7 linked regions of the Homo sapiens genome follow. The protein of the gene in region 5 purifies or fractionates together with the protein of the main gene of each other region. This does not show direct contact. Each region holds a gene or a part of one and is shown on either strand. Other genes may lie near its edges. The genes, in order: SLC39A3, ORC5, PDS5B, TTYH3, C19orf38, NLRX1 and SLC7A2.

What was found.
Region 1: the proteins of C19orf38 (region 5) and SLC39A3 purify together in Homo sapiens (affinity purification with mass spectrometry; one large-scale study listed by BioGRID and IntAct). This does not show direct contact.
Region 2: the proteins of C19orf38 (region 5) and ORC5 purify together in Homo sapiens (affinity purification with mass spectrometry; one large-scale study listed by BioGRID and IntAct). This does not show direct contact.
Region 3: the proteins of C19orf38 (region 5) and PDS5B purify together in Homo sapiens (affinity purification with mass spectrometry; one large-scale study listed by BioGRID and IntAct). This does not show direct contact.
Region 4: the proteins of C19orf38 (region 5) and TTYH3 purify together in Homo sapiens (affinity purification with mass spectrometry; one large-scale study listed by BioGRID and IntAct). This does not show direct contact.
Region 6: the proteins of C19orf38 (region 5) and NLRX1 purify together in Homo sapiens (affinity purification with mass spectrometry; one large-scale study listed by BioGRID and IntAct). This does not show direct contact.
Region 7: the proteins of C19orf38 (region 5) and SLC7A2 purify together in Homo sapiens (affinity purification with mass spectrometry; one large-scale study listed by BioGRID and IntAct). This does not show direct contact.

What each region holds. Positions count from the first base shown.
Region 1 is NC_000019.10:2,734,316-2,737,581, forward strand, and holds part of SLC39A3 (zinc transporter ZIP3), read right to left. Parts: intron 3,065-3,266; 5' UTR 2,943-3,064; coding exon 2,733-2,942; coding exon of another isoform or gene 2,625-2,732; exon of another isoform or gene 211-2,624; intron 1-210. UniProt on the Homo sapiens protein: Transporter for the divalent cation Zn(2+). Mediates the influx of Zn(2+) into cells from extracellular space. Controls Zn(2+) accumulation into dentate gyrus granule cells in the hippocampus.
Region 2 is NC_000007.14:104,187,084-104,191,352, reverse strand, and holds part of ORC5 (origin recognition complex subunit 5), read left to right. Parts: intron 1-2,971; coding exon 2,972-3,102; intron 3,103-3,385; coding exon of another isoform or gene 3,386-3,439; exon of another isoform or gene 3,440-4,269. UniProt on the Homo sapiens protein: Component of the origin recognition complex (ORC) that binds origins of replication. DNA-binding is ATP-dependent. The specific DNA sequences that define origins of replication have not been identified yet.
Region 3 is NC_000013.11:32,592,621-32,596,889, forward strand, and holds part of PDS5B (sister chromatid cohesion protein PDS5 homolog B), read left to right. Parts: intron 1-4,269. UniProt on the Homo sapiens protein: Regulator of sister chromatid cohesion in mitosis which may stabilize cohesin complex association with chromatin. May couple sister chromatid cohesion during mitosis to DNA replication.
Region 4 is NC_000007.14:2,641,461-2,645,729, forward strand, and holds part of TTYH3 (protein tweety homolog 3), read left to right. Parts: intron 1-4,269. UniProt on the Homo sapiens protein: Calcium-independent, swelling-dependent volume-regulated anion channel (VRAC-swell) which plays a pivotal role in the process of regulatory volume decrease (RVD) in the brain through the efflux of anions like chloride and organic osmolytes like glutamate.
Region 5 is NC_000019.10:10,861,367-10,865,635, forward strand, and holds part of C19orf38 (protein HIDE1 precursor), read left to right. Parts: intron 1-1,803; coding exon 1,804-1,841; intron 1,842-4,269.
Region 6 is NC_000011.10:119,171,574-119,175,842, reverse strand, and holds part of NLRX1 (NLR family member X1 isoform 1 precursor), read right to left. Parts: intron 3,488-4,269; coding exon 3,418-3,487; intron 2,943-3,417; coding exon 2,854-2,942; intron 2,365-2,853; coding exon 1,745-2,364; intron 1,391-1,744; coding exon 569-1,390; intron 1-568.
Region 7 is NC_000008.11:17,503,193-17,507,461, forward strand, and holds part of SLC7A2 (cationic amino acid transporter 2), read left to right. Parts: intron 1-4,269. UniProt on the Homo sapiens protein: Functions as a permease involved in the transport of the cationic amino acids (L-arginine, L-lysine, L-ornithine and L-homoarginine); the affinity for its substrates differs between isoforms created by alternative splicing.

The sequences.
Region 1 (3,266 bases), 8.1 Mb from region 5:
CACAACACAATCGACACTCAACAATGCCTGCTTCCCTGCTTCCTTCCCAGCGGAGACTTCATTACAACCTGCGCACGTGCACACACACACACACACACGCATATGTGCACACACGCACGCACACACACGCGCACACGCAGGTGCACACACAAGCACGCGCACACAGTGGTTCTCAACCAGGGCGATTCTGCCCGTGTGGACACCTGGCAATGTCTGGAAACATTTTTTATTTTCACAACTCGGGTAGGGGGAAGGTGCTGACATTCGGGGCTGGATTGTTCTCTGGGACGGGGCCGTCCTGGGCACTGCAGGGTGCTGCTGAGCAGTGTCTCTGGCCTCCACCCACTCCAGGCCAGGAGCACCCCCCATCGTGACAACCACAATGTCCCCAGGCATCGCCCAGTGTTCCCTGGGGGCAGTTCACGCTGGGTGAGCCTCTGCTGCAGCAGAAGGCTGTGTTTCCACGGAGAAGCCACTTAACTCCCTCACTGACCACCGGCTGGAGGCCTCATGCATGCCTCGCTTGAGGACAAGCTCATGAGGAACTCTAGCTACTCCCAAGAGACAGACGTTGATCAGGAGAGATGAGGCAGATGCACGGGAGCTGTGAACCAGGCACCATTTTCCAGGGGTGACTGAGAGCCTGGCCCTGCAGTGGGTGAGGCTGGGGGCTCGGGAGTAGGGACCTCATCCGCCTGACCAGCCCGAGGACAGGAGAACGGCGGGAAAGGTTTGGGTGCCATGAGAAGGCCACTGTGATGAGGGGGAGGGAAGAGCAAGCTCCCCGCAGTCGCCCAGGCCTGCAGTCAGAGGGTGACGGGGGTGACACCATGACCATGGGGGAAAAGGGGGGCTGGCAGTGGCCTCTGCGATGCAGGAGATGTCAGAGATGACCAAGATCTCCATCCTCGCAGTGCAGATGTCAGTCTTCACACACCGCGTAACGAACGAATGCAGACTCAGCCACGCGGAACAGCAGGAATGCGGTGTCTCGGCTCTGAACGGTGGAAATCCAGGTGCGGGCTAGCTGGGCCCTACGCTCCAGGTCTCGCAGGGTGTCATCAGGGCTGAGATCTCACTGACACCCAGGGTCCTCTTCCAAGCTCACTGGAGGTCGGAAGAGTCCACCTCCTGGTGGCTGTGGACTGAGGCCCCGTGTCCTGGCTGGCTGTTGGCGGGGATGGCTCTTGGCACCGAGAGGCTGCCCTCGGGTCCTCGCTTCATGCCCTTCTCCTGGCACACCCTGGCTTTTTGCTTCTCCAAGGCCAGCAGGAGGGTGAGTGGCTCACCTGATTAGGCCAGGCCCACCCCCTCCCTTTTGATGAACTCAGCGCTAACCGATCTGGGGCGGTCATCACAGCTGCAACATCCCCTCTGCTGGGATTCTGACATAATGGCAGGAGTGACACGCACGGCAGTCCCAGCCCTACCCACACTCGAGGGGAGGGAAGAGCATGGGGCGTGCGGAGCAGGGGCTGGAAGCTCAGGGAGCCACCCTGGAACTCTACTCTGCCACACTAACAGGCTCAGATGATTTAATCCCAGACAACAGCCCTTCTCCTCCTTTCTGGACACTAGGCACGAGGAAAAGCAGGGCCAGGGGTTGGGGGATAAGCTTAGGGCTTCCATGCTTTCGTTGGGAGGAAGAACAGGGGGTCCTCATATCTCCACCAAGTATGTAACCAACACAAATTCAATGTCACATCTGGCACTGGCCCAGAGAGAGGAAGCCACTCACCCAGGGTCACCCAGCAAGCATGGCCAGGGCTGGTCACACTGTGGCCTGACAGGGGACCCACACTCTGGGCTGCTGATATGGGGGAGCTCAAGGAACAGGTCAGCAGAGGATGATGCTGTCAGGAGTTGGGGTGGACAGACTCCAAGATGGCCCCAGAAGCCCCTGCCTCTTGACAGCCATACCCTGTGAGGTCCTGGCCACTTGAGTATGGGAAGGACTTGAACTTGCTTCTAACCAGCAGGACACTGGGGCAGAGGGGAAGGGATACCCTGTCACCTCTGCATGACATGGGACTGTGCCCTCTGTCTTACACAGAGTCATGGCCATCTTCTCCATTTGCTGATGAAGGAACTGATCATGCTGGGGAGGTCCACGTGGCCAGGCTCTGAGGGCTGCCCCAGCCAACAGACACTGACAAACAGACACCTTCGGTCTGACAACCAATGAGGAACTGAACCTGGCTTACAACCACATGAGCTTAGAGGCCGACCCATCCCCGGTTGAACGTTGAGATGAGACCACAGCCCAGGAGACACTGTGACTGCTGCCTTGTGAGCTCCTGAAGCAGTGCCCAGACCCCTGACTCACAGAAACTGTGAGATGATAAACGTCTGTAGTCCTAAGGTGCTCAGTTTGCTATAATTTGTTACGCAACAGTAGCTGACTGATATAGGAACCGAAGAGAGGCCATGCTTTCCAGCTTCAGGACAGAGTGTGCCCTACCTAGGTGGGTAGTCTGGTCTGATTATCAGGTGACAACCGACAAGTCCACCTGTTGGGAATCCCAGGTCTGGTCCAAACCCCTTGTTTGGCCGGTAGAGCACAGAGACAGAAAGTAACCAGTTCACAATCACACAGCAAATTCACTTCCTACTTTCCGTCACCCTTACAGCATCAAGGCCTTCACTGAACTTGGCATCAGTGTTGAAAATGCATCAGAGTCCCTTGGCCATAAGGTGCCAAGGGCTGCTGCTAGTGCCCAGGGAGCCCTTACCTTTTCCCTCACAGCGGGCAGCAGAGCGTTGAAGCACGTGGCCAGAAACACCCCTCCTCCAAAGGTGTTGCAGAGAGAGAGGATCTTTTTCGAGCGATGGGCCTTCTCAAAATCTGTCTCGATGATCTTCACGGGGAGCAGGGAGCCGAGCAGCATGAAGAAGAACACGCCCACCATGCACAGGATTTTGGCCACTAGCAATTTCACCATGGTGGCGGCTTGGGCTGCTCTGGTCACTGCAGGGCCAAACCATCTGTGGGCGCACACCCAAGTCCCACGATGTGCTACCGAGCCCAACCACACAGTTGGAGGCTCATGTCTCAGTCCAGCAACTGTGAACATCAGGGGCACTGCATTAGCTTTCTTTCTTTTTTCTTTTTTTTTTTTTAGACAGAGTCTCGCTCTGTTGCCAGGCTGGAGTGCAATGGTGCAATCTCCGCTCACTGCAACCTCCGCTTCCTGGATTCAAGCAATTCTCCTGCCTAGTAGCTGGGATTACAGACACGCGCCACCACTCCCAGCTAATTTTTTTTG
Region 2 (4,269 bases), on a different chromosome or scaffold from region 5:
ATTTATCTCTTCCTTCCATCTCTCTTTTCTTACATCCATCCAGTTATTTGGTAGGTTTTATAGGTAGATATCTTTGTTTCTAAGTTTTATGGTACCTTTTAGAAATTTTCAGTATATTAACTATTTCCCCATGCCTAGTTAAAAAAACTTAGTGACATTATATTTAAAGTTTGCTATTAGAATGTAAAAGTACATGGACTCTACAGGGAAGTTTTGGCTTTTTTTTTTTTTTTCAGCAGTTTTGAAATAAAAAAGCAAATTCAGTAACAGTGTCTCATCTAGTATCCATTCAGGCTAATATTCTAAGTATAAAACTAGGCTTTGAAATTTTTTTTGTCAACTTCTGTGTTTAAATATTCCTTAATAGAGCTATTTCTAAACTTCTGTTTATAAATTTTCAGATAGTTCATATATATTTTTTGATCTTGTACCTGCATCTAATTGATTGGCAGGCACAAGAGTGGTTAAAATCAAGGGCCAATGGTAAATGGCCTGGCTAAAAATACTAACTTACTGGGAACCTTAAACAAAAGGAAATTGACATGATTAGAATATCCTGGAAGAGTTTTTCCTTGTAATTTTTGCAAAAAACTTGAGCCCTCTGGAACTAGGTTTAAAGTTGTAGTCATATGCAAAGAGCTCTTAACTAAGAAGTCTAAGGAGAGCATTGCACCAAGAAGTCAGAGGATCTTACAATAAGGAATGAATGACTAATTGATTCCTGTATTATGACTGGGAAATTTTGAATAATATATGGTTGTTTCCCTTTAAATTTTACTGTGTTTCTAAAATATGATTATTTCCAGCAGGATAAAGTATAAGGTTAGGACTCTTAATGTGGTATTTTATAAAGAGTCTGAGATATAATAGAAGTAGAGTAAAGATATCAAAGTTGTAGGGAGAAAATACGTTTTATACAAGGGGGAATAACAAAGTAAGGACTAGGATCAGGTGATGATTATTGTAAAAAAAGATTAATTCTTTTCATTTTATAAAACATGAAGAGCATTTTCTAGTTTGTTGGCAGTTTATGTACTATCCCCTTTTTCTTCCTAGTTGATTTACTTAATAGGAAGAAAAATAAACTAGAATCTACAGTATTTTTTCCCTTGTTACTGATTTTGCCGGTAATAAGGTTGTTGAGATTTTCTTTAGATGTCATTGTTTTCTATTTGTCTTAGTATTTAATAATTTTTTTTTTACCCTCAGTTTCAAAATTGTGATTTACTTTTTCAGAAGTATTTTTACTCAAAACACTTCTGACACCAAATGTGTGGGGTATTTTTGTTCACCCAACAACAAATTCTTCAGTTTTCTAGATATCAAATGGGTGTCCTAAAATTCAATTCACTTCTGACACTAACTACCAGAAGTTAGTGCAGACCTCACAAGTTAAGGGCTTAGTCCTACAAGAATATTAGCATTTCAGACACCATTCTAAGTCCCAGGTTTCTACCTGTACTCCAGAAAACTGGCTATAAATTGGGGTTTCACATGAGCCCCTCCTCAGGTTTGATAATTTGCTAGAATAGCTCACAGAACTCAAGGAAACACTGTACTTACTCCATTTATCATAAAGGATACAAATGAACAGCCAGATGAACAGGTACACAGGACAAGGACCAGTGGGGTCCCAAGCTCAGGAGCTTCTGTCCCTGTGGGGCTGGAGTGTGCTACCCTCTCAGCATGTGGATATATTTACTATCCTGGAAACTCTCAGAACCTCATCATTTAGGATTTTTTTATGGAGGTGCCATTATATAGTCATGATTTGATTAAATCATTGGTCATTGGTCATGGATTCAGTCTTTAGCCCTTCTCCTTTTCCCAAGGACAGGAGGTGGGGCCTTGATATGGTTTGGCTTTGTGTCCCCACTGAGATCTCATCTTGAATTATAATCCCGTAATCCCCACATGTCATGGAGGGACCTGTTGGAAGGTAATTGAATCATGGGTGCGATTCCCCCATGCTGTTCTCAAGATACTGAGTTCTCACGAAAGCTGTTGGTTTTATAAGTATCCGGCATTTTCCCTGCTGGCACTCATTCTCTCTCCTACTGCCCTGTTGAGTGCTTTCCACCATGATTGTAAGTTTCCTGAGGCCTCCCCAGCCATGCAGAACTGTGAGTCAATTAAACCTCTTTTCTTTGTAAATTACCCAGTCATGGGTATTTCTTCATAGCAGTGTATGTGACAATACAGGGCTCTAATCACTTGGTTGGTTCCTCTGACAACCAGTCCCCATCCTGAAGCTATCTAGGGGCCCGCTGTATTAGTCCATTCTCACACTGCTATAAACATACCTGAGACTGGGTAATTTATAAATTTATAAAGAAAAGGTTTAATAGACTCACAGTCTGTGGGCTGTACAGGCTTCTGCTTCTGGGGAGGCCTCAGGAAACTTGGAATCATGGTGGAAGGTGAAGGGGAAGCAAACACATCTTCACATGGCCAGCAGGAGAGAGAGCATGAAGGGGGAAGTGCTGCACACTTTGAAACAACCAGATCTCATGAGAACTCTATCACAAGAACAGCTAGGGGGAAGTCTGCCTCATGATTCAATCACCTCCCACGAGGCCCCTCCTCCACTGAAAATTTCAAATGAGATATGGGTGGGGACACAGAGCCAAACCATATCACCCATCAAGAAACACCTCATTAGTATAAATTGAGGTATGTTTTAAAAGGACTTATTATGAGTAACAAAAGATACTCCTCTTATCCTTCTCATTCAGGGAATTATGAGGGTTTTTAGAAGCTCTGTGCCAGGAACTGCAGTGAAGATCAAATATATATTTTTTATTATATCACAAATCACACTTTTGTATTCTAATCTTGTAATAGTTTTATTATTCCTTAATTGTTGCTGGGTCTGGGTGTTTTTTTTTTAATACCTTTGTTATAAAATGCTTGAAGATATGATTAGTGTACTATGTTAATCATTATAAGTTATTTTGTGTCCTGTGAACAGGCAACCTTCAAAAGATCCTGTCCCATGATCATCCTCCAGAGTATTCAGCTGATTTCTATGCTGCCTACATTAACATTCTTCTTGGAGTTTTCTACACTGTTTGTCGAGATTTGAAAGAGCTCAGACATCTGGTAAATGAACATTTTGCTTGAATATATATATATGTGTGTGTGTGTGTGTGTGTGTATACATATATGTGTATATATGTATTTTAATGTTTTCCATGTAGAAATGGTATGAGATAGGTTAGAAACTGAAATTTTATTCTGGGAATTTGCATATGGCCTCTAGAGACTAACATACCATAAGAAGGTAGATGTCTGTGGGTTAGTACAAACTTTGATTGTTTGATCTGATCAGAAAAATGTCATTCTCAGATCTTCTTACTCTTCCTTGTTTTTTCTCTAATTGCAGAAAATGCAGAACTCCATAAAAATCAAAATGAGGAATAACAGAAAAGAGATGTAAAAACTTGAGCAGTTTTACAACTCTGTTAATATTTTGTAACAGATTTTGTTCAAGTTTTATGTATGCGGTGATTGAGGTCTAGAATCTAGATGGATTTGAGTATGGTCAGAAGCTTTCATTGCAGGTCTTTCATTAACCACTGACCCTGAGCTGGTAATCTTTGTATAGATGGTTCTTTTTAATTTTTTTTTTTTAACAATTAGAATAGCTGTTTATATTTCATAGACAGTTTGGAAAATGTTGATGTTTAATTTTTCTTTGACCTTTTTTGTTTTAATTGTAGGGATGGGAAAGGAAAGAGACAAGAATTTCTGTTTTCCCTTTTAGAAATCTTCAATTAATTAAGATCTTATCTCCATTTAACAGAAAATAGTAATATATCTGAGGCTGGAAAACAGTCACTTTCAAAGTAACAGATTCTATGTCTCTTAGCACATTTTCTTCACTTTGTTCTTTTTCTGTTTTTGCCCTGAAAAGTATTACTTAGTTTCAGTGTGTGTTTGCGACAGAACACAGAAGGCAATCATTTAAAATTATGCTCACATTTAGTATGTTTTTGAAAGTTTCAGATTTCAGGGCTCCTCTGATTTACATGTAGATTTCAGACATCTTCTCAGCTGGGAAAAAACAAAACAGTTTTTCCAGTTCAAGCTTATCACTAACATTCCTCTAGAAGTTGGATGTCTTGGGATCCCTGGCTTCTGAGGGAAATGATAACACAAGAGACTTACAGAGAGGAGAGGGTCAGGAAAACGCACCTGAGTGAGATGGACTTAGGAGCAGATAATCCTCCTCGGTCTTTCCTGGAAAGTAACTTGCAGTTACCACTC
Region 3 (4,269 bases), on a different chromosome or scaffold from region 5:
CGACTCTCCTAGCCTTCTGGGGTAACATAAATAGGTCAAGTCTTTATAGCTGTAGTTGGAATTCGGAAGGTCACTGGCATTTAAGACTTGAACATAGGAGCATATATCACAATATATGCTCCTATGATATATCAGGATGTGATGCTTGATAAGTGGGGTCCCTTTCTAAGGAATGCAGAAGAGCATGGTGGTTAATTTAAGCATATAGACTTAAGAGTCAAGACAGCTTGGGTTTTTATCTCCTCTAGCTAAACAAGCAATTACCTAATCTTACTAAATCTCAACTTCTTAATCTGAACAGTGGGACTAACAGCAGAAACCTCATTTTTAAAAGCAGCTTTATTGAGATACAACTCACATACCATAATCCATTGAAAATACACAATTCATTATTTTTTAGGATACTCATAGGTTTGTGCAGCCATCATCACAGTCTGATTTTGGAACATTTTTGTCTTCTGTGAAAAACGCCAAACCAAATGTAAATGAGTAGAGCCATTACGGAGAATATTATGGGGGCTCCTCAAGAGGTGAGAAGGGATAGAGAGAGGTTGGCTAAAGGCTACAAAATTTAGCTAGATAGGAAGAATAAGTTCTAGTGTTGTACTGGGTGACTACAGCTGACCCTTGAACAGCGAAGGGGTTAGGGGCACCAACCCCTGTGCAGTTGAAACTCCACATATAACTTTTATTTCTCTGAACTTTGGTAGTAATAGCCTACTGTTGATTGAAAGCCTTACTGATAACATAAACAGTCAGTTAACACATGGAGTGCAGTGGCACGATCTCGGCTCACTGCAACCTCTGCCTCATGGGTTCAAGCGACTCTCATGTCTCAGCCTCTGGAGTAGCTGGGATTACAGGCACCTGCCACCACGCCCGGCTAATTTTTGTATTTTTGGTGGAGACGGGGTTTCGCCATGTTGGCCAGACTGGTCTTCAACTACTGACCTCAGGTGATCCGCCCGCCTTGGCCTCCCAAAGTGCTGGGATTACAGGTGTGAGCCACTACGCCTGGCCTCCATTCTGTATTCTTAAAGCAAGCTAGAGAGAAGACAATGTTATTAAGAAAATTATAAGGAAGGAAAATATATTTGCTATTCATTAAGTGGAAGTGGATCATCGTAAAGGTCGTCAGCCTTCTTGTCTTCCTGTTGAATAGGTTGAGGAGAAGGAGGAAAAGGAAGGATTAGTCTTGTTGTCTCGAGGGTGGCAAGGTGGAAGAGAGAGAGGAGGTGGAAGAGGAGGCAGGAGAGGGAGGCGCACTGTAACTTTTACTGAAAAAAATCCATGTATAAATGAACCTGCACAGTTCAAACCTGTGTTGTTGTTACATATTTTCAACTAGCTAGAAGAGAGGCTTTTGAATGTTCCCAACACAAATAAATGATAAATGTTTGAAGTGATGGATATGTTAATTACCCCGATTTGATCATTACACATTGTATATGTTGAAGTATCACCATGTAACCCACAAACATGTACAATTATATGCTGGTTAAAAAGCATAAAAATAAAACCCCCGAACCTACTAGCTGTCACTTCCCATCACCCCTTATTTCTTTAGTGTTTGGGATAAGCCAGGTCAAATGCTTAGGTTGGTGCCAAAATGTAAGTACACAGTAAAAAAGCAGTTATAACTTTTTGCAGGGAGACTGTGTGGCAAAGTCCATTTACATAGTTTTAGAGAATGCAAAAATGGGATAATTACTGAATGGATGTTTGCATACTTCCATACTGTGCAAGGATGTGGTGCACAGTGCTGGCTAGAGATACAAAGATGAAAGATACTCAATCAAGAGATGTATATTCAAGTGGGAGGAAAGAGGCTGGTATAAAAATACTTATAAAACAAGCCAGAGTATAGTTAGTGCCTTCAGGAAGGGCTCAATACAATATTTGGAATTGGAAACTTGACAAATGGAGATTAGTCATGTTACTCTGAGAGTACAGGAACTATGAAAAAATTCTTGAAGGAGCAACCATTTTGACCAAGTCTTAGATGATGGAAAGATGGGATTTCTGGCTTTAATGAAGAGTAAAGAATGCAATGCTTTTTGAAGTCTTAAACTATTTGTTTTTGTTTTTGTACCCTCATGCTGCTGCCAGATGATTGCCTCTGGAAGCTATTCCTACACCTTTTTTTGATGTTTCTAATCTGTTATGAACCTGGGGGACTAAATTAGTAAATAATCTTTTAGTGAGAGCCTGATGTCTGTATGAAAAGGATACCAATATATGGTCTTACGCTGTCGTTTTGATATAGTTGCTTTTTTAGTTTATTCTGTGGGTCTTGGTTTCATCCCTGTTAATTGGTCTTACAGAATAAGTAATTCCTAGATAAATTAGCCTCATATACGTGTCTTCTTCTCCAAGGCTTCTAGTAACAACTATGTCCCCTGACCATTCTCCTGAATTTCCCATCTTCTTTTTCTAGTGCACTGTTGGACACAACACCTCCAGTACAATATATCCCAAACTGATCTACCTTCTCTTACTCTTTAACATCTTTCCAACTTGTACCTTGATTAATAACAGATTTCTTTCTTAAAAAAAAAAATGTTGTAGGGGATGACATGACTAGGTTTATCATCATGCTAGAAACCTGGGAGTCATCTTGACTTCTCCATCTCCCCTAACTCTCACATTACATAAGTTACCAAATCCTGTTGATTCTGATATAGTATTTTTAAAGGTTATTATTATTTTAAATTATATGCACATATATACTCCAAAAGTAAGACGGCAAAAAGGAAAAAGATACACAATAAAAAACCTCTCATTCCTTCCCCATTTGCCTCATTCCTAGACTCCCACAAAAGTTTATATATGTTAATGTTATGTTATATCCTTCTGGGGGTTTCAAAACACAACTATGTAGAAGGAACCACATACTTAAACAAATAGTAACACATAGCATGGGATTTCCACAATAGAGGTATACACAGAGTCTGTGAGAAGGAGAAAGAACCACCATGCATTCCCTAAAAGAAGAGTTAGGTATTGGAAAAACCTTCCTATTGGGTCCTGAATAGAAGATGAAAAGGAGAACTTTGGACACGTGAATAAACCAAACTGAGCTGTTAATAAGCAGAGAACTATCAATTAGACACAGAGACAAAGGGTCTAACAATAGGATGCTAGAACATTTCATTGTTTGGGGGGTTCAAAGGACCTATAAGGAAATAAAAGAAAATGCTGGCAGCCACACACAGTGGCTTACATCTGTAATTCCAGCACTTTAGGAGGCCGAGGTGGGCTTCTTGAGGCCATGGACTTGCAGTTACTTTGGGATCTAGCAAAGATTTCAGCGCATTGTAGATGATGAATATTTATTGAATATGTGTAATAATGTATATATACTAAACATATATGTGACAACCCAAGACAAGGAAAATTAATACAATATTAAGCTCACAGATTTATTTAGAAATATAAAATTTTATTTTTATTGAGGTGTAATTAAAATACAGTAAAATGTGCAGATCTTAGCTGTTCACTTTGATGAGGTGTGATGATTATACACATGTAACCAATAACCACAAGAAGATGTAGAGCATTTTTATTACCCCACAACGTTTCCTTGTTGCTCTCTCCATTCAATTTCTTTTGCCTCCAAACACTCTTTGATTTTTAAATGTAGATTAGTTTTGTTCTATCTTCATACAGTGTGTGCTCTTGTGTATCTGGCTTCTTTTGCTTAACATATTTTGAGATTCATCCATGGGGTTGGATGTATCAGTTTTTATTGCTAAGTAATATTTCATTGGGGGAATATTTCACAGTTTATCTTCTGTTGATGGACATTTGGGTAGAATCCAGTTTTTGACTATTATGAATAAGGCCTATACAGATCTTTTTGCAAGTGTGTGTTTTCATTTCTCTTGAGTAAATACCTAGGAATGGAATTGCTGGTTTGTAGGCATATGTGTGTTTAACTTTACAGGAAACTAGTTTTTCAAAGTGGTTTTCCTTTTTATATTCCCACCTGAATATATGAATGTTCTAGTTGTTTTACATCCTCACCAACACTTGGTTAGTCAATCTTTTTAATTTTAGCTATTCTAGTGGGTGTGGAAGGGTATCTCATTGTGGTTTTATTTTGGATTTCCTTGATATCTAGTGATGTTGAGCACCTTTTTGCATGGTTGTTGACAGTATATTTTCTTTCGTAGGATGCCTCTTCAAGCTTTCTGCCCATTAAAAAATGGATTATCTTTTTACTATTGATATGCAGGAATTCTTAATGTACTCACGATACAAATTCTA
Region 4 (4,269 bases), on a different chromosome or scaffold from region 5:
CAGGAGGGGGTCGCCCCCAGCCCCCTTGGCACATGTGTGGCAGTTGAGTCCTCTCCGTGTGCTCCGCGGAACCCAGCGTGCAGTTTTCGCCTCGCCTGACCGAGCCCTTACATCACTTCCACCACAGACGGAAAATTCCATTTGGTCAGAGCCCAGCTGCTGATCAGACAGTTCCCATTCTTTCTCTGAATGGGCCAGGGAGGGGCGGAGGGGCCGCCAGCCCGGTGGAGAGAGGTGGCTGGGCCACCGTAGGAATGCCGCTGGCCCGGTGCCCCGCAGGAGACCGTCTGCTGGGAATCTGGCTTCGGGAAGTGGGTGCAGAGGCCAGGCTGGCCACGGCACGCTCCCCGCAGACAGCTGGGCTCAGGCCTGGCGCGTTGGGTGCCGGGGCTCTGACGTGGGATGAAGCAGCTGCCCGGTTTGCTGAGCACCCTGACACCCAGGCTCTGCATGCTCGCAGTGGTGGGCTGGGACCCGGGCAGCCCAAGTGGGCTCCCTTTGAGGGAGGCGCCATCTCCTTCCTCAGTTGGGGGAAGCCAAGTGAGGCTGTCCTGGCAGGGGCCCCGAAGCCTGGCCTCTGGCCCCCAGGGGCTGAGGAGCGAGGCTCCGTTTGCAGCTGGCCCCATCCAGGCAAGAACAAGAGAAAGCTGCCTCAGCCAATCGCGGTGCTCACACCTGTAATCCAGCACTTTGGGAGGCCGAGGCAGGTGGATTGCTTGAGCCCAGAAGTTCAAGACCAGCCTGGGCAACATAGCCAGACCCTGTCTTTACAAAAAATTTTTTTAAAAATTAGGGCAGAGGCCAAGCACAGTGACTCATGCCTGTAATCCCAGCACTTTGGGGGACCGAGATGGCAGATCACCTAAGGTCAGGAGTTCAAGACCAGGCTGGCCAACGTGGTGAACTCCCCGTCTCTACTAAAAATACAAAAATTAGCCAAGTGTGTTGGTGCATGCCTCTAGTCCCAGCTACTCAGGAGGCTAAGGTAGGAGAATCACTTGAACCTGAGAGGTGGAGGTTGCAGTGAGCCGAGATCATGCCACTGCACTCCAGCCTCAGTGACAGAGACTCTGTCTCAAAAAAAAAAAAAAAAAAAAAAGAAAGAAAGAAAAAGAAAATTAGCCAGGCGTGGTGATATGTGCCTGTGGTCCAAGCTACTTGAGAGGCTGAGGCAGGAGGATCACTTAAGCCCAGGAGGTTGAGGCTTCAGTGAGTGGTGATCGTGCCACTGCACTCCAGCCTGGGCCACAGAGCAAGACCCTGTCTCTAAAATAATTTTTTTCTTTTCTTTTTTTTTTTTTTTTTTAAATCGTAGACTTGGGCTGGGTGTGGTGGCTCACGTCTGTAATCCCAGCACTTTGGGAAGCTAAGGCGGGCAGATCACCTGAGGTCAGGAGTTTGAGACCAGCCTGGCCAACATGGTGAAAACCCATCTCTACTGAAAATACAAAATTAGCCAGGCATTGGTGGCGGGTACCTGTAATCCCAGCTACTTGGGAGGCTGAGGCAGGAGAATGGCTTGAACCTGGGAGGCGGAGGTTTCAGTGAGTCGAGATCACACCACTGCACTCCAGCTTGGGCATCACCAGTGAAATTACATCTCAAAAAGAAAAGGCTGGGCACGGTGGTTCACGCCTGTAATCCCAGCACTTTGGGAGGCCGAGGCGGGCAGATCATGAGGTCAGGAAATCGAGAGCATCCTGGCTAACACAGTGAAACCCTGTCTCTATTAAAAATACAAAAAATTAGCCAGGCTTGGTGGCGGGTGCCTGTAGTCCCAGCTACTTGGGAGGCTGAGGCAGGAGAATGGCGTGAACCCGGGAGGCGGAGCTTGCAGTGAGCTGAGATGGCGCCACTGCACTCCAGCCTGGGCGACAGAGCGAGACTCTGTCTCAAAAAAAAAAAAAAAAAAATCGTAGAGTCCCCGGTACTCCAGCTCCTGTGCTGCCTTTTCTGTTTTTCTCAGCGTCTCTCACCATCCAGCAGGCTTCACAGTTCACTTACGATGATGCTGAGTGCCTGTGTTCCCTCACCACCCTGCAGGCGGCGCCAAGGGCAAGGGTGCCTGGTGCTTAGCAGCCTCTCCCCACCGGGCATGGGCGTCCCCTGCCCACTGCCCCTGGGCATCAGCCCTCTGCACCAGGGCAGTGCCATCTGAGGGACGGGCTTGCCTCGCCCAGATCCTGTTTGGCCAGGGCTTATCTCGCTCTGCCTCCGTTTTCTCATCTGGCAAGTGGGAGTGGGTGGCTCTGGCGCCGCTGAGGAAGTGATCTGGACCTGGAAGCCCTTTGATGTACGCTGATGCCCCGAGCTCTGGGTGGACATGCCAGGCCGGTGGCTGCGGAGGTCACACCTGTTTAGGCTCTGCGTAATGCGTGTCTGGGATTGACCTGCTCTTCCAGTCCCCAGCTCCTCACCCCAGGAGGAGTTTCCCTGCGAGGCTGTGAGTCCCAGATGTGGGGTGCAGTACAGACAGGCCCTCCTAGAGTCATGTCCCACCGGAGCACAGGGTCGGGGGAGCGAGGGTGACTCCAGCCAGGGACTGGGGAGGCCTCTGCAAGTGGAGAGCAGAGGGAGGGCTCGCTGGAGGAGTCTGACCAGCCCGGGGCCAAGATGCGGCTGGTTGACATGGCCCCCAGGCCATGGGAGCCCAGGGGAGGCCCTGTGGATGGAAGTGCAGACGTGGGCATGGGTCCTGTGGAGCTCTGGTCCCGGGGGGCATGGTCAGCTGCCCCTACAGGTCTGTTCTGCCGTTGGCCTCTGAGCTATAAGGAGGGTACTGGCAGGGCCTGCAGTCACAGCCGGTGGGGTCAGCACCTCCACTCCATTCCCAGCCCCACACAGGCAAGGGCAGACCCAGGGAGCCCCAGAGCGTGGCTTTTCCAAGCTCCCTAACGTTTATAGACAACCCACTGAGCACAGAGCATGGGTACCGTGCTGGGACTGTTAATATGAGGCCCTGCCAAGTGACTGGACTGTCTCCGCCTCCCTGTGTGATCTTGGGTAAGCCCTACTGGGCCCTGAGGACCCCTCTGTGACATGAGCTCCCTGGGACCATGAGACCGCCCTGAGCTGATTCAGTTTCAGTGGCTCTGGTGCCAGCCCTGGGTCCTGCCCCTGGAGGGTGGGGGTGCAGGGCCCAGCAGTCCTCCTGCCATTGCAGGGGCGGTAGGCACTTGTGCATGGCTGAAGGAGTGGGAGGGTGCCCGCCCCTGATGCTCTGCAGTGCCCAGATTGCTGGCTGCTGGGCAGCCGTGGACACACCGGTGTGGCTTTGGACCATGGCGGCTCATTTCTGGGTGTGCCGGGCTGGTCAGCACCTCCCTGGCTGGGTGGAGGTGGAAAGGCCGCCTTCGGGTGTGGACGTCGGCCGGCTTCCTGGAGGGCAGGACACGGCATCCTCCCACTGCCTGGCAACCGTCTCCTGGGAGATCCAGCAGCAATCCCATTGCCCACTGTGGCTGAGCCTCTCATCCCAAGGGGGGGCCAGGCAGGGGACCATCTGCCCCAGCAGCTCCCAAGGCTGGGGTCCCAAGAGGGCCACACTGCTGAAGCATTGAGATGTGGGGAGAGAGGCGTTTCTCTGCAGTAGTGCCAATGAGGGCAGCGCAGGTGTGCCTGGTGGCCACCCCACAACACTGAGGGCCCCAGCTGCTGACACCCCCCAGGGCACCCCCAAGTTAGCCTCTAGGTGGTCCCTGGCCCCATGATGAGGCGCAGCCCTGTATCAGCTCCCCATCCCTCCCCCGGCACAGGAAGTGTGTGGAGGTTCTGGAGGGCTGAGCCGGGGGCAGGGCTATGCTGAATCCAGGGACCTGGGGTTGCAGGGCCTGTGTGCTTTCTCTGTAGCTTCTATGAAGCCCAGTTTCCCTGTGGATGAAATGGGGTGAGAGCACTCGGCCAGGCAGATCGAATGCAGTGCCAGGAGAAGGGACAGCTCTGGGGCCACGTTACCCTCCCTCCCCGCAGCGGGTGCTGAGGAAATGTCACTGTTGCATCAAATTAGCCACTTCCTGTGGGGGTCGCCTGGCCTCGGGACAGGGGAGCTCTGGTGTCTGTTCTGTGGTCTGTCTTTTGTGTTCAGAGACCTGGGGAGAGCCACACTGGAAGGCCGTGCTTGGAGCCAGACAGGGCTGTGTGTCCGATGGGGCGCCTGTATGCAGCCTGTAGCAGTGTGGGGCCAGCCCCACCATCTCATCCAGCGTGGGGGCACGCCATGGACGGTGCCCACCCCTGAGTGCAGCTTCTCGGTGCACAGACCCCAGACAG
Region 5 (4,269 bases):
CCCCAAGCAGAGAAATGTATTCTCTGTACTTCATTCCTGGTCCAACACACACACTTATTGAGCACTTACTATGTGCTAAGATCTGAGAGGGTCCTTTCGTAACCAAGACAGATGTGCTGTCTGTCCACAAGCCCATTCTCCAATGGGAAACAGCCCGTGATGGCACCAGACTGTGTCTGGGACAAGGCAGGTGGTCCCCTGAGGAAGTGATGTTTTTCTTTTTTTTTTTGAGATGGAGTCTCATTGTGTCGCCCAGGTTGGAGTGCAGTGGCACGATCTCAGCTTACTGCAACCTCTGCCTCCCGGGTTCAAGTGATTCTCCTGCCCCAGCCTCCCGAGTAGCTGGGATTACAGGCACGTGCCACCATGCCCGGCTAATTTTTGTATTTTTAGTAGAGGTAGGGTTTCACCATGTTGGCCTGGCTGGTCTCGAACTCATGACCTCAGGTGATCCACCCACCTCAGCCTCCCAAAGTGCTGAGATTACAGGCAATTACAGGCGTGAGCCACCGCCCTTTTGTTGTTGTTGTTTTTTGTTTGTTTTTGTTTTGAGGCGGAGTCTCACTCTGTCGCCCAGGCTGGAGTGCGGTGACGCGATCTGGGCTCACTGCAAGCTCTGCCTCCTGGGTTCAAGCCATTCTCCTGCCTCAGCCTCCTGAGTAGCTGGGACTACAGGCGCCCGCCACCACACCCGGCTAATTTTTTGTATTTTTTTAGTAGAGATGGGATTTCACCATGTTAGCCAGGATGGTCTCGATCTCCTGACCTCGTGATCTGCCCGCCTCAGCCTCCTAAAGTGCTGGGATTACAGGCATGAGCCACCGCGCCCAGCCTGTTTTTTTTTTTTTTTTTTTTTGAGACAGAGTCTTGCTCTGTCACCCAGACAGGAACGCAGTGGCGCAATCATAGCTCACTGCAGCCTCGACCTCCTAGGCTGAAGTGATCCTCCCCTCTCAGCCTCCTGAGTAGCTGGGACCACAGGCATACACCACCACACTCAGCTACTTTTTAAATTTTTTTTTCTAGAGACAAAAAATTATGTTGCCCAGGCTGGTCTTGAACTCCTGGGCTCAAGTGATCCTCCCTCCTTGGCCTTCCAAAGCGTTGGGATTACAGCCGTGAGCCACCTCACCTGGCTAGAAGTGATGTTTAAGCAGAGACCTACAAGAATGGGTAATGGAGGCCGGGTGTGGTGGCTCACACCTGTAATCCCAGCATTTTGGGAGGCCGAGGCAGGCAGATCTCTTGGGGCAAGGAGTTCAAGACCAACCTGGCCAACATGGTGAATCCCTATCTCTACTAAGAATATGAAAATTAGCTAGGTGTAGTGGTGCATGCCTGTAATCCCAGCTATTAGGAGGCTGAGGCAGGACAATCACTTGAACCCAGGAGGCGGAAGTTGCATTGAGCCGAGATCCTGTCATTGCACTCCAGCCTGGGCAACAGAGTGAGACTCCTTCTCAAAAACAAGAAAAAAAAAATGGGTGATGGAGCAATTGGAGGAGAGCCTGGGGAGGAGGAGGAGCTGGCAGGTGCTCCTTCTGGAAGGCCTGAGATAAGACACCCATTTTCCTGAGGGCAGTGAGAGATACCCCTAGGAAGACTGTGTGTAGAAGGACTTGGTTCACTTTGTAGCTGTGAACAGTTCACCGTGCAGAATGGGTTGGAAAGGCGCCATAGAGGATGCTGGGAGATGGACCCCAATTGCTTCCCTGTGGGCTGGGGGGCAGTGCGGGGATGGCAGGGAGCAGGGAAGTTACAACTGGCCCCCAATCCTGGGTTTTCTTTCTCTTTCTGTTTCAGACATGTCCTTCGATAACTCCCTGTTTACCGTCTCCGCGGTGAGTGGTTCTTTTTCTTGGAACCGGTTTTCTGCTGACCGTCCTACCGGGAGAACGGGGCGGGCTCAAGGGGCACCACGAGGCTAAGTTGACCTGCTGTCTCTAAGCTGCGGGGGGGCTAGGAAAAGCCCAGAATCACTGAACAGGGACTCAGTAGTGAGCCGAGAGTTGGCTGTGAAAAAATCCCAGGGGGTGTGTTAATTGAAGGTGGTGACGTCAGGCTGTCTTGTGGCCACAGGCAGGCAGGCCCCTTGGTGGTATGTCCTGGCCTGGTCAGTGCTGCCTTTGGTCTCAGTCATGACAGCCCCTCAGAATGGTGACAGAGGATTCAGGGTGACCTGGTGGCCTCTCATAGAGGCTTGTGACAATCTGTGTCACAATCTGTGACAGGCTGTGGTCGGTCCCCTCTGGGTATAAAGAAAAGCATGAAGTTGCTGGGTGCGGTGACTCACGTCTGTAATCCCAGCACTTTGGAAGGCCGAGGCGGGTGTGGGTCAGGAGTTTGAGACCAGCCTGACCAATATGGTGAAACCTCATCTCTGCTAAATACAAAAAATTAGCTGGGCGTGGTGGTGCATGCTTGTAATCTCAGCTACTTGGGAGGCTGAGACAGGAGAATCACTTGGACCCAGGAGGTGGAGGTAGCAGTGAGCCAAGATTGAGGCATTGCACTCCAGCCTGGGCCACAAGAGCAAAACTCCATCTAAAACAAACAAACAGATAAAAATGAAAAAGTACAAATGCCAAGGCTACCCCAAAATGTAGCTGTGCAGAGAGTCCCATAGACCCAGGTTTAAATCCCAGCCCTGACACTGTGTGACAATGGGGAACAATATCCCCCAAAAGCAGAGGGAGGGATTTGTTTTTTTTCAAGACAGAGTCTAGCTCTGTCGCCCAGGCTGGAGCACAGTGGTGTGATCTCGGCTCACACAACTTCCGACTCCCGGGTTCAAGCAATTCTCATGCCTCAGCCTCCCGGGCAGCTGGGATTACAGGCACATGCTACCACACCCAGCTGATTTTTGTATTTTTAGTAGAGACGGGGGTTTCACCATGCTGGCCAGGCTGGTCTCAAACTCCTGACCTCAGGTGATCCACTGGGATTACAGGTGTGAGCCACCATGCTGGCTGGCTGCGGAAGCTGCTTTAGACAGGAGATCAGGAAAGTCTGAGATGGGTGACAAGCAGGAGGTGGGGAAGATTGGGGATGATTGATCCAGGCTGAGGACACATTTTTGGCACAGCCCAGTAAGCTGGGGTGGAGTGAGGAGTCGAAGGGGACCCCATGAAGAACTTTGATTTTACTGCTATTGAGCTGGGATCCCGGAAGGGTTCCTAGTATAGGAGGGAGGGGACCGGATTCAGGTGCACACAGGCGCCCTCTGGTGGCTTCTGCAGGAGGACAGATTTGGGGAAAGCGGGGATCAGTGGAAGGCAGGAGCCTGGAGACTGAAGAGCTGGGCCAAGCGTGCACCAAAGGGTGGGTGGTTTGGTCCAAAATGTTGGCAGTGGAGTTCGAAGAAGTGATCAGATGCAGGTTAGGGGAGATATAGGGGAGAGAAAACACAGAGCTGATTTTTGATGAGGGGGCCAAGGGAGAAGAGGGAGGCCAAGGAGGGTGAGGCTTGGAGGGTCAGGAGTGTGGAGTCAGCCACCTCAACCCATGGCGCCTGGGAGCAGATGGAGAGGGGAGTCTACAGTTCAGGAGAGAGGTCAGTTCTAGAGATAGACTAGGAGTGCCTGGGATACAGATGGTAGGAAGGAAGGGGGCTTGGCACGGGCCTGTGCAGCCCTCTGAGGTCTCTGCTTCCAGAATAAATCCTGAGGCCATAAGAAAAACCCGGCAGGCAGGGCTCAATCTAAACGTTTCCATGAGAATCCACACCGCACAGAACACCAGCCTGGTGATGCCCCCTCTCCCCACTTTTTGAGGTAGTTTTTATTTATTTTTGTTTGTTTTTTGAGATGGAGTCTTGCTCTGTCACCCAGGCTGGAGTGCAGTGGCTTGATCTCACTGCAACCTCCACCTCCTGGATTCAAGCGATTCTCCTGCCTCAGCTTCCCGAGTAGCTGGGATTACAGGCGCCTGCCATCGCGCCCGGCTAATTTTTGTATTTTTAGTAGAGACGGGTTTTCATCATGTTGGCCAGGCTGGTCTCCAACAACCGACCTCAGGTGATCCGCCCGCCTTGGCCTCCCAAAGTGCTGGGATTACAGGCATGAGCCACCATGCCCGGCCTTTTATTTGTTTTTTTACTTTTTTTTTCTTAAATTAAGGACCAGGCGTGGTGGCTCATGCCTGTAATCCCATCACTTTAAGAGGCCGAGGTGGGAAGATTGCTTGAGCCTGGGAGGTTGAGTCTGCAGTGAGCTATGATTGCATCACTGCACTCCAGCCTGGGTGACAGAGCAAGACTTTGTCTCAAAC
Region 6 (4,269 bases), on a different chromosome or scaffold from region 5:
CACAGCACAGTCCTCAGGTCTGTAATTTGGTTTCTGGAGTGGACCTGCCCTCATGATGACTCCCCTAAGCCAATTACCAATGCCATTTATCTTCCTAGTATAAATGAATAAAATGGCATCTGCTTTATAAACCCGTCTCTGGTGATTTAGTTAGGATGAGTCATCACTCTCAGAGCCTAATCACCTCTGGAGGAGCAGACACAATCGAGTTTCTGGACCTGCAAAGCAGAGGATAGGCCTGCCTCCTAGGAGGAAAGACACAAAAAGGAAACCATTTTTAGGAATCCATGTAGCATTATTATTAAAGTCCCCACGTCCCCAGGTTCCCTTCCCCAGCCACCAAGCCTTCCCCAGCCTTGTGGCTTCTCTCTCTGCAATCCCACTAAAAGCCAAAATGCTCAGAGCTGAAACCAGATCCAGGGAGAAGATTCATACCTTTGCAGGAAGCAGCAGTTTCCTGCTGGGAGAGGAGCAAGGGGTGAACAGGGAACCATGTGGGGGCGTGGGCGGCTTGGGGTGCTGGGGAGGGAAGGAGCAGGTTGGGGGGTTACCTTGATCGGGATGTTACCTTGATCAGGTTGAAGAGCAGAGGCAGAGCCCGCAGAGGCAGCAGCTTGGCCATGATGCCCAGTACCAGGCTGACGTCCTCCCCAACACGGCCCACGAGCTCAGCCACTTCCTTGCCCACCTTTTGCAGGGTCGTCTTGCGCAAACCCAGCACAATGTAGAGGGCAGCCAGGTATTCCTGCATGGCGGGCACGGTGAACACGAAGGTGCCTGCACGCCCTGGCTCCACACATGGGGCCAGGAAAAACCTCAGGGCATCCCGACGGAAGATGTGCAGCAGCTGAAACTCCTCCTCCGTCCTGATGCCAGCCTCCAGGCAGCCACAGACATCCTCTTCAGAGAAGTAGGTCTTGCGGGAGGACACCCCCTCATAGGCCAACTTGCCCATGGTTCGGGCTGCATAGGCCATCAGGGACAAATTGGAGGGGTCAGTGCTGTCCAGGGTTTCCCCGCTGAAGTTGAGGCGCAGGAAGCTGGTATAGATGCTTGTAAGGGTCTGCCCAGCAGGCGTGGGGGCATGCAGGAAGTGCAAGGTGGCACAAACGAGCCAGCAATAGGACGGCAGGAAGCAGGCAGCGGCTATCTGGTGGTGCCCCTCCAGGTTCCGGGAGAGCATCTGCACCAGGTGGTCACGCTGAGCTGGTGTGGCAGAGACACCTGAACCGCCAACGGCATACCCGCAGTACGGCTGGTTGAGGCGGAGCTGGAAGTAGAGCTTCTGCAGGTTGGTATCAGAGAAACCGCAGATCTCACCATAGCGGCCCACGTACTTGCTGGGGATACGGCCAATGGCAGAGGGCCGAGTGGTCACCAGAATGCTGGCCTGGGAAGAGCATGGTTGAGAGTTAAGAAAGACCTTAGTGTCCTGTTGACTGCTTCTATTCCCAGGGGACCCCTGAAGACGGAGTGTCCAAGGATGAAGACATTGATGAGGATAACAGTTATAACTAGCAATTACTGAACACCTGCTGTGATCCAGGCCGCTGTGCTAATATTATATGCAGTACCCCATTTGATCAGAGCAACTCAAAAAGAAAGGAACAGAAGGCTGGGGAAGTTACTGACTTGCTCAGGGTCGCACCACTGGGAAGTGAAGGGACCAGGAGTTAAAGTAACCCAGGACCTAGGGGGCGAGTCAACGGGCAGCAGTGATAACCTGGGGTAAAGGGCCACCCACCTGAGGCAGCATGTATTTGCGCAGCAGGTTGACGATGATAGCAGCTGGTTCCTGCGGTTCCTCCGGGTCACTACAAAGTCCCGTGCCTGCCAGCCGGAAGTCGAGGTTGAGATGCTCTAAGCCATGGAGCACAAAGAGGAGGTGGGACCCAGCAGCAGCCATCAGGGGCAGAACCTCCTTCAGGGGCGTGTAGCGCTGGGCCACAAGTTGGCACAGGGAGGCTGGGGCAGGGCCCAGGGATGACAGGTCCTCACAGGAGAAGGGGATGAGCAGCTCGAAGGCCGGCAGCCGCCCATAACACCAGTCCAGAACCATCTTGCGCACCAGCGTGCTCTTGCCTGTGCCCACTGTCCCATACAGCACCACTGTCTGCACCCGGCGCCCACAGGCATCCGGGTTAAAGAGCTGAGACAAGGCCAGTGGGGGGAGCCCGGCCTGGGGTGGCTGATGCTCCAGGGCCAGCTCCGCGGGTGGGCGAAGTAGCTCATCAGGGGTACTCTCGCGGATCACAGGGTCAACGTGGACCGTGTCTAGGGCAAAGGTTGGGCCAAACTGGCGCTCCTCCCTGGGCAGCCGGCTGAACCACTCAGCCAGGTTCCGGCGGTGCCGCTGTATAGCTTCTGAGTGGGAAGATAAGGGAAATGTGTCAGGGAAAGGGGCCTGGAGATGTAGCTTAGGGCCAATCAGGGCGGTGGTGAGGTCAGGCTGGGACATCACGGCATAGATGCTGGGGCCCACAATGGTGGGCACACAAGACTCCCTGAGAAAATATAGACTGTCCAGAAAGTCTGGAACCCCTATGTCAGAAAGTGGGAAGCCACTGGACAAACTGGTTTCACAGTGACCTATGTGCCGTCTTAACCTGCTTGACCCAACTTTGTTGAGCATAGGGATGGTATGGCTCTCCTAGCGCTTTGTACATATAAGTGTGCATTGCAAGAGTATTGCAGGAAGGGATACATAGACGGATGGGAGGGAGAGAGAGAGAGGAGGAGGGACCACCGATGGAAGATGGCAGTGGATCCTCTATGCCTCCCTCACCCTGCTTCTCCTTCCAGCCCCGTCTGCCCACCACACCCCCTGACCAGGGTCCCAGCCAGTCCCTTTACCAGTTGCAGAGGCGCTGGGGAACAGCCGTCCATGCCTCCCGGGTGGGGGAGCGCTATCTACCGAGCTTCCGTGGTGGCGTATAAAGGCCCTGGGAACAAGGAGAGGGGATGAGCTGGGACTTGTAACTTGGATCAGCCCCTTCACAGGCTCTGGGTCCAAGCCTATCTGCACTGCTAGACTTCTGGTTTCCTGAGATAAAGGCCCCACACTGGACCCCCAAGTTTAGAGGCTTGTCTGACTCTCACACCCTTCCCAGGTGCTGAGGCCTTAGCCCTAGCCCTCCAGACCCCACTGCTGACTGCCCGCCTGGAACTCAGGCTGGCCATGTGAGGCTCCACCCACTTCCCACAGGGTCCTCCCTCCACTGACTACTATGCCTTCTACCACAGATGATCTAAGCCAACTTCCTCTCAGGCCTTGGAGCTGCCACTGTCCTCCCACCCCCAAAGGACCAAGCCCCTCCCCAAGGTCCCCAAGAGATCAAGCTAGCCCCAAGTCCTGACCCTTCCCAGTCTGCTCTGTTGTGCCCAGACTAGTCCTAAGGTATGACACCCAGGCCTCACCTAGGGGGCCCAAAGGGACGCTCCCCTTGAAGGGGCCAACTCCAGTGGATCAGGAAGGGGATACGATCATCTACAGAGAGAAGGAAGAAATAGCATCTGCAGATCCCATGCAATACACAGAACCCATGTCTACATCAAACCCCCCAGTATTTGCTCTCATAGCAGCATGTACTGCCCCTTTGCAGCAGTTATTTTGCAATTTTATATTTCATTGTGTGATTATTCGATTAACATTCATTCCTCTCTCCTCCATGAGAGGGATCACATTTGGGTGTTTTAAAATTTTTTTGTCCCCTTTACGTCTGTTTTTGTTCACAATTATTTACTTAGAACTTAACACCAGGTCTGCGGTACGGCAGGCACTCAGTAAATCTCTGTTGTATGTAAAGTAAAATCAGACAAGTTCCTAGACTTATGTAGCTACAAGAGACTCTCGAAGATGATCTAGTCCAACTCTCTTTTTTTTTTTTTGAGACAGAGTCTTACTCTATTGTCCAGGCTGGAGTGCAATGGTGCGATCTCAGCTCACTGCAACTTCTGCCTCCCGGTTCAAATGATTCTCCTGCCTCAGCCTCCCAACTAGCTGGGATTACAGGTGTGCACCACTACACCTGGTTAATTTTTTTTTTTGTAGTTTTAATAGAGACAGGGTTTCACCATGTTGCCAGGCTGGTCTCAAACTCCTGATCTTGTGATCCGCCTGCCTCGGCCTTCCAAAGTGCTAGGATTACAGGCATGAGCCACCGCACCTGGCCAAGTCCAACTCCCTTATTTTAGGTTGGGAAAAAGGCAGCTGAGGAAGGTGAAGCGACATGCTCAAGGTCAACAGCTAGAGAACCACGGAGCTGAGAC
Region 7 (4,269 bases), on a different chromosome or scaffold from region 5:
GGCGCCCGCCACCACGCCCGGCTAATTTTTTGTATTTCTAGTAGAGACGGGGTTTCACCGCGTTAGCCAGGGTGGTCTCGATCTCCTGACCTCATGATCTGCCCGCCTCGGCCTCCCAAAGTGCTGGGATTACAGGTGTGAGCCACCGCGCCCGGCTGAAAACATCTTTATTGAAAAAAATTTTATGCTTCAGAAGGGTGGCTTTTTCTTTAGATCGCGAGTTTTTTCCTTCCTGAAATTCACTTTATATTCACTCCCGCGGTGTTCCTTATCTGTTCTAGCAAAGAGTACTTATTATTCATACGCGGCGCTCATAGTTCGCAGAATATTTGCAGCTTGCCAAGGTACTTGTCCTGACAAAAATTCAAATGGCAACTCTTCATGATAATTTGTATCAAAGAGTACTTATTATTCATACGCGGCGCTCATAGTTCGCAGAATATTTGCAACTTGCCAAGGTACTTGTCCTGACAAAAATTCAAATGGAAACTCTTCATGATAATTTGTATCAATGTGGGTATGAATTCCTGTGGGAAAAGCCTGAGCTCAAAGCTTTAGGCTACTCTGTATGGACTTTTTGTTTAATGATCATATGAAACAATACAATTTTATATTTATGTTTGAATTCACCAGCAAGTTTTAAGTGGTTTCTTTAATTCAGTTGTGATTTAAGCAATTGTTTGGGAGACGTCTTTGCTCTTGAGTTCTGGGGAAACCTAGAAGGAGCCTGGGGTGAGTTTTGACCCTCCATCCTTAAGTCCTCAGCAACACTCAGGTGTGTTTTGGCCACATGAGGAATTTACCTTTGTTCCACAGCAGCCTATGGCAAGAAAGTGAAGTCACATTGGCTGTGATTCCCCAAGCAAAGTGAGATTTCGATTTCAACTCAGAGGCCTGGCGTTTTGCATTGATCTGGACCTTTGTGAAGGCATTGGTAGAAGAATAACAAACTACTAAGAATTCAGTTTATTGATCATCCTGAAACAAAATGGCACTGCTGAGTGTTTAGTGAGCCTCAGTGAGGAGTAAGTATTGGGCACCAGCTGTGTGCCCTCTGAGAATGTGCCAAGTGCTTAGTGAGATTGAGGCCGGTGGTAAATGAGATCTTGTGGCTCTCCTGGACCACTGGTCAGTTTCTTATGGAGTTCAGTGTCTAGGGGATTGAAACCCTTACCTTTCAATTAGTTGCACTTTAAATTATTTCATACTTTAAAGTCTTGTATTGCAGTGATATTTTTAAATGTTTATGTAATTCTAATTGGCGGAGCCCATACTTGATAGAATTGCCAGTGGTTCTTATTATGGGATAAAATTGAGGTCATTTTGAGTGACCAAAGTAACAATTAATTCTATCCGGTTTATCAATTGTATTTCTATATGCATTCCTTAGAGAACCCATATATGTTCTCAGTTACTCTTCTACCACATCGTCTTCTCTTTGGCTTTCATCTTTATTACCAACTTTTATTAATACATTTGGAGAAGTTAAAGGTCATACTCTTTTTAGGTAGAATTGTATAATATTTACAACTTAAGCGCCATACTGTTTGAGCAGTCTCTGAAATTTTACTGCAACTCTTAAAAGATTGAGTAACTGACTCAAACAGGAGAACTAAAGAAATTCAGGTCCAGAAAAAGAAAAGATTGCGTGACTTTTACAGTTTTTTCTAATGAAAGGCATTTGCATGAATGGTTCCCATAGTTCCCTGATACACAGAGAAGGAGCTCCTCCTCCTTTACTCCGATCTGCTGGCCATTCTGTTTACATTCGTGCCTCTGTGGGAAAGAAGAACTCTAAGATCATAGCAGCTGTTCTGTGCAGCAGTGGCTCCCTTGATGTTTTAGGGGAGTTAAGGAAATTAAGTGATGGAAGCATGTACCACCCCCCACCCCCCCGCCGCCCACCCGATCCCATCCAGTTCACTTCCCTGTAAAAAAGAATGCACATCTGTATGTAAACTGTGCCTCTTCCCTCTGGCAATTTTGTGTAAGATTTCTGGAAGGTCAAGACTTCCCACATTCCAACCAGTGGGCAACTAGGGTTTCAGAAACCCAAGATAAGAACCTTGGAATGCAGAAACCATTTCAACTTCTCGAAGAAATATCTTAGGAGAGAATCCTGTGAGCAGGATGGGGCCTTCTTGGTCATGCATCCTTTCCTCTTGCTGAAGAAGACCGCTTATGGCCTCCAAGTTGGGGCTGAGAACTGGCCCAGAGGTAGATGTGGCAGTTGGGGTCACTCTGAGTCACAGAGGTATGACAGTAACATAGCAATGACCCTTCTCAACTAGTGCCATGGTGGATGCTGTTCCCTGGCCTCAAGGGTATACTTGACTTCAGTGATCTCCAGCCTCGCCATCTTTCTTTCCTCCAGATTCTTAGACTCGTAGATTTCAATGTCTTCCTATGGGCCAGAAACAAATTTACTTGAGTTTTGGCTGAGATAATTTAAACTGAGTATTTGTAAATGTCTGACATAAACAGAAAAAAAATGGGTAAGCATAGTCAGTGCCCTCTTTTCTTATCTAAAATTGGAGCATCTTTAGTGTGACATTTGAAATCTAATCTTGCCAGTTCAATGTCAGTCTGATACGGATATTCTTGTAGAAATCTCTGAGATTTAATAAACTTACAGTTGAGTAGAACTGAATCATACTAAAGACCAGTGGAAGCATCCTTGCAGGGCCTTATCAGTTTTTACAATGTAAAATAACTAACCCATAGCGTTTCCTTTTACAGTTAATGTTTGTTTAATAACATGCTTAAGGTATAATATTGAGACGAAGTGAGGAATTTTAATGCTGATTTAGCTACTGAAAAATTATCTCTTGCAACACTTGCTTTACTTGTAGTTAGGATTTGTAATGTTTTATTGCAAAAGAAAGCCCTCTTTTAAATGCGTTGCATTTGTGGCATAGTGGTTGTGTAGGTGGAGTAGGACTTGTGTCTGTACAATTCATCAAGAACATAGCACAGAGCACTTTTACATGCCATTCAGAGACAATAGTGGGTGTTGATAAAATTTGTAGTACTAGAGCTGTGAAAACAAGTGCTGGGCTGGTGCCTGCTTTAAACTCTCTTGAAACTTAGCAGAATTTCATTTTTATAACAAAAATCACTATTTTCTTTAAAGAGGATTGATAACATGAATAAGTCTAGGTGTCCTGGAAATTCATTTGGTTATATCACTATAAAAATGGTGAGACACTGTTGTGGTAGTTGGTTTTGTATTTTAAAGCGTAAACTTCACAGTACATTTAAAACTGTCCTGTGCGAAATTTCAGAGGCTTTGGACACGTTCCTTTCTAGCCTCCCTCGCCGTGGACAGTTATCAAGTTTCTGGCACGGTGCTAGACGAATATGGAAGAGAAGTAAGTGCCTCAGAATGACATTTTAGAACGCTCTTTTTATAGGTTAAGAGACTGAGATCTTGAGAGGTGTAACTCATCTGAGGTTAGACAGCTAGGGATACAGTGAAGACTGGAGTCCAAGCATATTGAAAAGTCAGACCATTCTGTTTTTGTGAAAACAAATAATAATTACTAGAATGCACTACTTCTGTGGAATTTTTTTTTTTGAGACAGACTCTTGCTTTGTTGCCTGTCTGGAGTGCAGTGGCGCAATCTCGGCTCATGTGAGGTTAGACAGCTAGGGGTAGAGTGAAGACTAGAGTCCAAGCATGTTGAAAAATCAGACCATTCTGTTTTTGTGAAAACAAATAATAATTACTAGAATGCACTACTTATTTGTGGAATTTTTTTTTTTTTTTTTGAGGCAGACTCTCACTCTGTTGCCAGGCTGGAGTGCAATGGTGCAATCTTGGCTCACTGCAACCTCCACCTCCCAGGTTCAAGCGATTCCCCTGCCTCAGCCTCCCAGGTAGCTGGGACCATAGGCGGGCACCACCATGCCTGGCTAATTTTTTTTGTATTTTAGTAGAGATGGGGTTTTACTATGTTGGCCAGGATGGTCTTGATCTGCTGACCTTGTGATCCACCCGCTTCGGCCCCACAAAGTGCTGCGATTACAGGCGTGAGCCACTGTGTCTGGCCTATGTGGAATTTTTAAATTGGGGATCAGTACAATTACAACTTAACATTTTTAGATTTTAATGGTTAACTATAATTTATTATATAATTTTAAAAAGCTGGAAACTATTTAAATGTGTGTGTGTGTGTGCATTATTATTATTTTTGTGTGTGTGGAGACGGGGGTCTCACTGTGTTGCCCAGGCTGGTTTTGAACTCCTGGCCTCAAATGATCTTCTCG